2 separate regions of the Homo sapiens genome follow, and region 2 is linked to region 1. Evidence: fine-mapped expression QTL. A gene starts in region 1. The other region holds a variant in brackets. All regions are shown on one strand. Distances are from middle to middle.

Region 1 (5,374 bases):
CTGCCTACCCTCCCCAGATCCTGCAGCCCCCAAATTGCTCTGCACTTTCCCCCCTTCATTTCCTTCCTTTCAGTTACCTCCCCACTGCCCAGCTCTCCACAGGTCACTGCCTGTCTCCACAGACTATATAACAACCTGGACTCAAGAACCATGTCTTTAATTTTTCTGGCTCTTTCACAGCCCAGCGTGTGGCACACAGTGGCTCTCAAGAATATTAGTTACAGGCCGGGTGCGGTGGCTCATGCCTGTAATCCCAGCACTTTGGGAAGCCAAGGCCGGTGGATCACCTGAGGTCCGGAGTTCAAGACCAGAATGACCAACATGGTAAAACCCCATCTCTACTAAAAATACAAAAATTAGCCGGGCATGGTGGTGGGCACCTGTAATCCCAGCTACTCGGGAGGCTTAGACAGAAGAATCACTTGAATCTGGGAAGTGGAGGTTGCAGTGAGCCGAGATTGCGCCACTGCACTCCAGCCTGGGTGACAGAGAAAGACTCCATCTAAAAAATATACATATAATAATAATAATAGTTATATAGTAGAAGTTGCAAACAAATGGAGCCACTTGGCTGGCAAGGTGGCTCACGCCTATAATTCCAGCATTTTGGGAGGCTGAGGTGGGTGGATCACTTGAGGTCAGGAGTTTGAGACCAGCCTGGCCAACATGGTGAAACCCCATCTCTACTAAAAATATGAAAATTAGCTGGGCATTGTGGCGGGTACCTGTAGTCCCAGCTACTTGGGAGGCTGAGGCAGGAGAATCGTTAGAGCCCGGGAGGCGGAGGTGGCAGTGAGCCAAGATTGCATCACAGCACTCCAGCCTCGGCGACAGAGCAAGACTCTGTCTCGAAAAAAAAAAAAAAAGGAACAAAAAAACTAAAATGACATTTGAGGGGATAATTGTGAAATTCTTTTTTTGTTTGTTTGTTTTTTTTATTATTATTTATTTTTTTTTTTTTTATTTTTTTGAGACGGAGTCTTGCTCTGTCGCCCAGGCTGGAGTGTAGTGGCACGATCTCGGCTCACTGCAAGCTCCGCCTCCCAGGTTCACACCATTCTCCTGCCTCAGCCTCCTGAGTAGCTGGGACTGCAGGTGCCCGCCACCACGCCTGGCTAATTTTTTTTTTGTATTTTTAGTAGAGACGGGGTTTCACCGTGTTAGCCAGGATGGTCTCGATCTCCTGACCTCATGATCCACCTGCCTCGGCCTCCCAAAGTGCTGGGATTACAGGCGTGAGCCACCGCACCTGGCCTGTTTTTTAATTTTTTTGAGACGGAGTTTCACTCTTGTTGCCCAGGCTGGAGTGCAATGGCATGATCTTGGTTCACTGCAACCTCTGCCTCCCGGGTTCAAGTGATTCTTCTGCCTCAGCCTCCCTAGTAGCTGGGATTACAGGCACACACTTCCACGCCCAGCTGATTTTTTAAATATTTTTGGTAGAGACGGAGTTTCACCATGTTGGCCAGGCTGGTCTCAAACTCTTGACCTCAAGTGATCCACCTGCCTTGGCCTCCCAACGTGCTAGGATTACAGGCGTGAGCCACCGTGCCTGGCAATGTTAGATCTCCTGAGTGTGACAGTTGTATTGTGGCCATGTAGGAGAATGTTCCTACTCTTAGACATCGATGCTGAAGTACTGGGGGAGGCTAAGAAATGGGCCACGGTATCTACAACTTCCAAGCTTCAGCAAAATGAAAAGGAAAAGAATCCGGGAGAGAGAGAGACAGAGAGAGAGAGGGATGAATTTAGCAATGAGTTAACAATTGGTGAATCCAGGGAGAAGGGTACACAGGTGGTCATTGTACAATTCTTGTAAGTTCTCTGAAGGTTTGAAATGTTTCAGAGTGAAAAGTTGAGGGAAAACGCCTTTGGTGTAAGATCTGGGGGAAACTGAGGGGAAATGTGGCAGTGGGCCCTGTCCCCCGGAAGCTCAGCAGAAATGGCAACTTGCACCAGCCTATGCCCCCTGCTGCCCAGAAAACATCAAACTCCACCCACTTGGCCTGCACCTCTGCTCTCAGCATCTTCACGCAGGCTCTCCCCCTCCTCATCGGAGGAAATTTCCCCCGTGGATAGCCACCCCTGGCTTGGCTAGGATGTTACCCTAAGTGCCTTAAAGTACCACTGTTTGTCTCCCTGGAGAGTGAACCCAACCCTAAGTGGGCTCTACCCACTTTAGGTTTTCAAAAATTATATTCACTTAACTTCACAGAAAAAAAAGAATGTGGGCCAGGCGCGGTGGCCGACGCCTGTAATCCCAGCACTTTGGGAGGCCGAAGCCGGCAGATCACGAGGTCAGGAGTTCCAGACCAGCCTGGCTAACATGGTGAAAACCTGTCTCTACTAAAAATACAAAAATTAGCCGGGCGTGGTGGTGCGTGCCTGTAATCCCAGCTACTCGGGAGGCTGAGGCAGGAGAATCGCTTGAATCCGAGACCGGGAGGTTTCGGTGAGCCGAGATGGCGCCACTGCACTCCAGCCTGGGCAACAGAGCGAGACTCCGTCCAAAGGAAAAAAAAAAGAAAAGAAAAGAAAAGAAAAAGAAAAACAATGTGATGTACAGACACAGAATGCCAAGATTTCGTCATCCCACATTCTCTTCGGAGCCCTGTCAATGAGGATGTTTTTCCACCCTCGTCATCAGATTGGTATACTAGTTTGTCATTTTCTTGCTTTTCCCAGCTTACTTTTCTCTTACAGGCACTTCCTGATGTTCCCCGAAGCCTCACGCCCCACATATTTGAGGGGCTATAGGATGCCGTGGCGTGCTCGCTTTGGCCATCCATGTCCCTCGTGTTGGACACTAGAGCTGTCCCCGATGTACCCATACTGACCTGGTCACGAATCGCCTTGAGAGGCTGGAAACTCACCCGCCTCCTTTCCCGGACTAGGGGGAAGTGGGGTGAAGGAGGCGTGCAGGGAGGAACCTGGGGGAGGGGGTGGCCCGTCTCCCAGGCTGGGCGTGGGCCGGGCGAGGTCCCCAGCCCACCGGGCCGTGCCAACAATGGCCTGTTGTAGAAGGAGGCGGGAAGGAATGCGGCCTGGGGAGCTGGGCGGCGGCGGGGCGGGGCCCGGCCAAGCGGCTGCCTTTTACCTGGCCAGGTAGCTCGCATTTCCCGGCAAGCGGCGGCGCCCGCAGCACCTGTTGCCCGGTGCGCGGGCGGGGAGGACGGCGGGGGACATGGCCTGGTAGAGTCCCCTGGGGAGACCGTGCTGAGTTCAGTCCGGGGCAGGGCAGGGCGAGGGAGGGAAGGTCCTTCCCTGGCGCCCGCGCGGGCTGCGGCAGCATGAAAAAGAAGCAGACGGTGCAGGGCACCTTCAGCAAACTCTTCGGGAAGAAGCACACCACGACCCCCAGCACCTCCCTCTACGCCACCAATCCGCCCTGGATCTTCACCCAGGAGGCCCCGGAGGAGGGGACCGGGGGCTTCGGTGAGTACTCCGGGGACGGAGGGCGCTGGGGCGGGGACGGAGGGCGCTGGGGCAGGGCCGGCGGTGCTGTCTCCTGGAGGCGCGGAGGGGAGGGACACGTTGGAACCTGCGGACTGGCCGAGAGCAGCCGCCGGGCAGGGGAGGAGGCACCGCACAGGGGTGTCTGGGAAGGGCTGTGCGGTGAGAGAGGTGTGGGGAACGAGGGGACCCCCCCCACCACCACGGGGAGGTGGGAGAACTTTGCCGCCCCCACCTCTGACCCCAGGCCTTATTCGGAGGTGTTTAATTCCCCCTCTTGGCGAATCCTATGCTTGTGTTACTGTTAGCGGAAAGGCTTCCGGAGGTTTGCGATATCTCCCCCGACCCCCACCGCTACACCCCCATTCTGGCTGAAGCAAAAGTGTTCCTGAAGAACTGGGGGCTAAGGGGCTAAGAACTCCTCCCTCACCCTTTGCACTCCCTGTTTCCCAAGCCCACGTGGCAGAGAGGGGCCTGCTATCTGGGTGCTCACAAACTTGGCTCTGGCTAGGTGAGGCCCAGGAAAAAACAACAGGCGCAGCTGCTACCAGGTTACCAGCCTGTTTGTGACACCAAGTCACTTATTGGGGCCACAGGCTCCTGCCAGTTCAACCTGGGACCTGGGCTGTCTCTGGGCTAAGACCGAGGAGCCAGAAATGGGACAGTGGAGGCCAAGGAACCCTCTCCCTGACTGCCAGCTGCCGCTGACCCTGGAATCAGACTGGTGTGTCTCTGCAGGCCTCTAAAAGCACCGCCTTGGCTCATCCCCAGGCTCTGGCTGTGGGTCATCTTATCATTGCATCGTTTTGCAATTTGTATTCTCTATAACTAGGGGAAGCCAGCGGCTGGAGACAGAAATCCATTTCTTGTGTATGACATGTGGCTCTGGAACGCCCAGGTTGGGGGGGCAGGGGGCTTCTGGGCCCAAGGAAGGTCACCCATCACTGCTTTAGCTTGCCTGCCTTCATTCTCACCATATTATCTTCACTGATCTTTATAGCCACTGTGCTGGGACCCACAGTGGATGTCATAGCCTTGGTGCCTGCTGTTGGACTCAGTTCAGCATGCAGGTTGCCACAGCCAGGACACAAGGCACCATGGATAGGAGCAGGACGGACAAAGTGTCGCCTCTTCCTGGCACAAAGATATCAGATCAGGGGGTGAACAGAACTAACCATATGCCATTTAGCCCTTTCTGAGCCTTTGCTGTAAATGATTATTAAGCATAAAAGCAAAGAAGAGAGATGACCTCTGAGTGGAACTAGCATTCGAGCTGACAGGAGAGGGCATTCCTGGCAAAACAAACAGTAGAAGCAAAGACCAGGAGGAGCAGGGCAAGTGGAGGCATGGTGTAGGCACTCCCAGACACAGGTGTGCAGGCAAGTGCCTGTGAGCCAGGACACTTCTTTCCCTCTCAACGGAGGCACCATGGAAAGACCATTTATTAATCCCTTCTTAGGTGCAAGATGCCATTCTAAAATCTTTGTGTTACTGATTCATTGAAATCTCATCTAGAGTCAGGCACTATTATTGTCATTCCTGTTTGACAGATGAGGAGACTGAGGCACAGGGAGGTTAAGTAATATGCCCAAGATCATACAGCTTTCAATGCTGGAGGCAGCATTTTTCTAAGTCCACAATTCAATGATTTTTAGTAGACCATTTACACAGAGTTGTGCCATTATCACCACCATCTGGTTTTAGAACATTTCGATGACCTCCAAAATCTCCCTTGTGAGGCAGAACTAGTATTTGAATCCAGGCAGTCAGGCTCCAGAGATCACACTCTTAGCGGGTTTGCTGAATTAACTCTGCAGAGGAAGGCGATCCAAGTTTACTTGAGGGGCATCTGCCTGGAAAATACCACACACATACACACACACACACCCTTCCTCCCTCAAGGGGAGACCTCAGCCATGCC
Region 2 (5,374 bases), 32 kb after region 1:
AGCCACCATGCCCAGCTGCCTTGGTTTTCTAAGTGAAGAAAATGGGTCTCAGTGATCTGTAGAAAAGGTAAGGTGGAAAGCCTAGGTTTGCACCCTGGCTCTGTGAAGGGATTTGAGGTGACACCGGTCACACTCTTAGTATAGGGCTATTGCACAGGAGGAGCCTGGACAATGGCTCAACATCACTGTCCCCATCCCACATCTCCACTGCTCATCCAAGGCTACACTGCTGGCAAGCCTGAGCATGAATGGAACCCAAGACTTTTGATGCTAAGTCCCCAGCCTTTCCGCTTTTCAATTATGTTGAAATTAATCAGAGATCTCAACCCTGGCTTTTGAAGGCCTGGCCTCCATCTCATCAAAATCAGAGTGTGTGTACTTGATGGAGGTTATTAGAATGTCAGTGATTTGCATGTGTGTGTGGCACATCTCAGGATGTCATGGGAGACACACTTCTGATGGGCTGGGTCCCTATACCTGCCCCTGGTTCCCAATCACTGGGTTTGAGAAAAGTTGAGAACAGGTATGTTGTTGGCCATGCAAATCAAGTAAAGGCAGGAAAAAAAAAAGACAAGTTGATGGCTCAAGGCCATTCCAGCTTCAGAATTCTTCAAGAACAAGATGAGTGGTTTGCTGATCCCAAGTGACCAGAGTAATTCTGAGATGGCCCTTGGTAACCCAGGGTCTCATAGATATTTCTGTAACATCGACCTTGAGTGCCCTTCTTGTATATTAAGTCCAGAGGGTTAGTACCATCAGCCCATCACTAACAACTGGGCTCACTATGCATCCAGCTTTGGGGGATACCATAAGACATGGTCCCTGGGCTCCAAGGAGCTCCCAGATCTCACTGAAGGAACTAGAGGACAATCTGGAGTGCAAACAAGTGTCTCCCCTCTTTTGGGAGCTTGGCTGTGGGTTGCTCTGGGTAGCAGTGGGTCAGTGTGGTGCGGACAGGGGATGGCTCCCAAGTGCTTTTTGTGCATTGCATCATTTAGTCCTCACAGCTTCCCTACTATGGGTAATTGTATTGTTATCACCATTTCCCAGATGGGGAAACTGAGACACAGGGAGATTAAGTAACTTGCATAGTCATACACCTAATAGGTAGCAGATCTGATATTCAAATCCAGACAGGCTGGAAAGCCAGAGCCAATGCTCTTATCCCCTACCCCTGTTCCATCATCCTAGAGGGGCTCAGCTAATCCTTGAAGGATAAGGGATTTTAGGGAGGCAAAATACTAAGGAGTGGGAGCTCCACAGACCTGGGTTTGGTAGTACTGGTTGTGTGACTTTAGACAACTTACCAAAGGTCTTTGAGCCTCAGTTTCTTCATCTGGTAAATGATGACATCCTCTTCTATACAGAGTGGTGTGACTGAGATAATGTGTTTAGTTAGAGCACAGTGCAAGGAGTATTATGACTATGATTATTGTTATAAATGGAGAGTGGGAATGACAGGTACAGCTGACCAATGCCCAGCATCATGGATGAACACGGACTATATGGGGTGGTTGAAAAGGTGGCAGGGAGGGAGTCGGTGAAGCTACAATGTGGGATGGGTGTAATAGGTGAGTGGGAAATAACAGTTGGCTGGGAAGCATGAGGCCAGGTCATTGGGGACCTTGAAAACTACCCTAAAATGCTCTACAGCTCTTCAAAACAGCAGGTGTGTGGACTTTGTTGACATATGGAAATGTGTGTTTGGAAAAAAAAAATAGAATGCAAAATAGTATGTACAAACTGACAGCTGTGTAAAAATATTATAGCCTCTTAAGCTTAGCGATCAGAAGGGCATCTGTAGAGCTATAAATATTCAAGTTCAGGCTGGGAACAGTGGCTCATACCTGTTATCCCCACACTTTGGGAGGCCAAGGTGGGCGGATTACTTGAGCCCAGGAGTTCAAGACCAGCCTGGGAGACATGACGAAACCACATTCTCTAAAACATATACAAAAAATTAGCCAGGGCTGGGCGCGGTGGCTCACACCTGTAATCCCAGCACTTTGGGAGGCAGAGGTGGGCAGATCACGAGGTCAGGAGTTCAGGACCAGCCTGGCCAACATGGTGAAACCCCGTCTCTACTAAAAATACAAAAAATTAGCTGGGCATGGTGGTGCACGCCCCTGTAATCCCAGCTACTCGGGAGGCTGAGGCAGGAGAATTGCTTGAACCCAGGAGGCAGAGGTTGTGGTGAGCAGAGATCATGCCATTACACTCCAGCCTGGGTGACAGAGCAAGACTCCATCTCAAAAAAAAAAAAAAAAAAAATTAGCCAGGAATGGTGGCACACATCTGTAGTCCCAGCTACAGATGGGAAGATTGCTTGAGCCACGAGATGGAGGCTGCAGTGAGCCATGATTGCACCACTGCACTCCAGCTTAGGTGACAGAATAAAACCCTGTCTCAATTAAAA[C/A]AAAAAAAAATTCAAGTTCATCACTTTTTATTTTTCTGTAAACACCTAATGAAAACTAAGAACACACAGGAGGCCAGGCTGAGGAGTTTGGCTTTTCACCTGTGGACCTCCATGGAGAGTCAATGCAGATTCTATTTGTTTGTTTTGTCTTTTTCATCGAGATGGAATTCATATACAGTCAATCCTCCCTATTTGTGGATTCTGTATTTGCAAATTTGCTTAGTGGCTAAAACGTATTTGTAACCCCAGAATCAATGCTTGTGTTGCTTCTGTGGTCATTTGCAGACATGCACAGAGCAGTGAAAATTTTGAGTTGCTCAATGCACATGTTCCCAGCTGAACAAGAGGATTCTATGCCTTCTTGTTTTAGCTGTCATACAAAAACAAGTGTCTTTTTCTGTTTAGTGTCATGTGTTATAGTGCTATCGGCCATGAGTTCAATGTTAACCAACCAACAAAATATATTAAAATGTCTTTAAGCAGAAACACAGCTAAAACAAGGTTATGGTTATGTATTGATCAGTTGACAAAAATCTTGTGACCAGAGGCTCATAGGAACCTAACCCTGTATTTCCCCTAGGAGCAACGGGTCAGTATTTACTAATACTATGTTCATTGCAACTTTATAGAACATAACTATGACAAATAGTGATGATTGGTTGACTGTACCACAAGATTCACTTTTTAAAATCAGCCTTTTATATTTTGGTATATGCACAAGGTTATGCAACCATGACCGTCACTGCAGATTTTCAAGCAGTAAAATGGCCTCAAAGAGCAGCAGTTTGAGAATTATCTGTCCATCTTTCCCTGTCCCCTGATTTCTTTCTGGTCTCTTTCAGAATGCCCAGGAAAACCATGGGCTGGCTGTGCCCACCCCCTCGGTTCCAGATGATTTTGCAGACAAAGAAGTGACAGGTAAGTGAACCCTGGGCTTGGGGCTTGTCCATCTTTCTTTCCTCCTAGGGCCCTGAGTTCAAAAGCTAAGCATCTGCTCATCTTCACAGCTGGTGACAAAGCCAGAGTCCTCAGGCACAGCCACTCTCGCCATCCTCAGTCATCTTGATTACTGGCCGCAGTGGGCTAGGGCAGTGGGGCTGGGAGTTGAGGAGAGCCACGGTCAGTGAAGGCCCCTTTCTGGCGGGGGAAGGATGGCAAGGGGACAAAGCCAGAGCAGGAACAAGTGCAGCATAAAGTGGAAGAAGGGCCTGGCTTTGAATCCCAGCTCCCCACATATTCACTTTGCTCCCTTGGGCAAGACACTTCACCCCTCCTACCTCTGTATCTTCCAACGAACGATGGGAACAACAGTTCAGTTTGGAGGAGTAAATGAAGTGGTGGATGGGATGTATGTCATGTCTGTCACACCTCTCAGAGGTGCTTCAAACTCACTAATGGCTTCCCGTGTCACTCAGAGAAAAGGTTCTTGCAAGGACTGCTGGAGTCTGACCGGAGTCTGGCCACTTTGCTTGCTTGCTTTCCCCTCCCACACTGCCCCGGCCACAGCATCTCCTGTTGCTCCTGAAATACCCCAGGCACATTTCCGCCTTGGGGTCTTTGCACTGCAGACCTCTCAGGTTAGAATGCTCTTCTGCGAGGCATCTGTGTGGCCGTCTCCCTCACTCCTCCCTTCTTTGCTCAAATGTCACCTTCTCTGCGAGGCCTTCTCAGACTGCTTTATTTATTTATTTATTTATTTATTTGAGATGGAGTCTCGCTCTGTTGCCAGGCTGGAGGGCAGTGGTGTGATCTCAGCTCACTGCAACCTCTGCCTCCCGGGTTCAAGCAGTTCTCCCACCTCAGCCTCTGAGTAGCTGGGACCATAGGTGCACACCACCATGCCCAGCTAATTTTTGTATTTTTAGTAGAGACAGTGTTTCACCATGTTGGCCAGGATGGTCTCTATCTCTTGACCTCGTGATCCACCTGCCTCAGCCTCCTAAAGTGCTCGGATTACAGGTGTGAGCCACCGCACCCGGCCGGACTGCCCTATTTAAATTGCACCTGCTGCACCCCTCCCCTGCTGGTGTTTTTTCCCATCGCACTCATCCTCTAATGTGATAATAATGTACTCACACATTATGTTCATTGTCCCGTTCAAGCGTAAGCTCCCTAGGAGGACCAGTGTTTGTCTGTTTTTTGTTTTGTTGGTTTTTTTGCTGCTGTACCCCAGCTCCTAAGTCCTGCCTGACAGTTGGGTGCTCAGTGAATGTTAGTTTTCCCCTTCCCCACTCTTGGTTTCTTCAGTTTGAAGTCAGGCAGCTGGGAGGAGCCCTTCAGAGCCGCACACTCCCCAGGTTCGCCACACTGTTAGGGACTGAGAGGAGGGGAGCAAAGGATGGGTGCCCCTAAGAAGGAAGTAGACTCTGGGAGAGGGGCTGGGGACCTGGTCCGAGGACAAGAGAGGGATGTGCGCTGCTGGGGCCAGGGGCTCTCAGCATCTCTTTAGCACCCAGATTGTCCAGGCCACCTTCCTTCTGCACACCCCTGTTCTATTCTGCAGTCCAGAATCTGCCTCCATTCTCTATGAAGTGGACAGCTGGGTTCTTAATAGTTTCAGGGTCTTTAGAAAGCAGGAGTAGTTTGTGCAAATTGCTCCCTCCTGCGGGTCTCTCACCCAGCCTTCCTCACTGAGGAGGTCTCTCGCCCCTGCCCCATGACTTCCTATCTCTTTCCCACCTTCCCTGTCTCACACAGTCTGAAAAGTTAAGCACAGATGGTAGGAATCAAAGTGGTTCCATTTTATTAAATGCCTACTGGAGGCCTGGCACCATGACAAGCCCTTTCTGTGTATTTGCATGGATTCTCTCATTTAATCCTCACAACAGCTGTAAGAAGCGAGCACTGACATCATGCCCCTTTGACAGATGAGGAAACTGAGGCTCAGCAAGGTTAATTAGTGTGTTCAAGGTCACTCATCTAATAAGTGGTAGAGCTGGGATTTGAACCCTGGACTTT

What was found. PIP is the estimated chance that this variant, and not a neighbour inherited with it, causes the effect. A credible set is the group of variants that fine-mapping cannot tell apart.
Region 2: its variant is the best candidate, but not a certain one, in a credible set for the expression of C6orf132 in lung (TOPMed, PIP 0.56).

What each region holds. Positions count from the first base shown.
Region 1 is chr6:42,140,361-42,145,734 of GRCh38, reverse strand. It overlaps C6orf132 (chromosome 6 open reading frame 132), which reads left to right and starts at 3,115. Exons shown (of 5, transcript NM_001164446.3): 1 at 3,115-3,435. The coding sequence starts at 3,291. RefSeq lists an enhancer at 3,861-4,540.
Region 2 is chr6:42,108,176-42,113,549 of GRCh38, reverse strand. C6orf132 (chromosome 6 open reading frame 132) reads left to right here. Exons shown (of 5, transcript NM_001164446.3): 3 at 3,259-3,334. Among named protein-coding and RNA genes, the nearest start is that of C6orf132, 32 kb to the left of the region's middle. The variant C/A (reference allele first, on the strand shown) is at 2,417.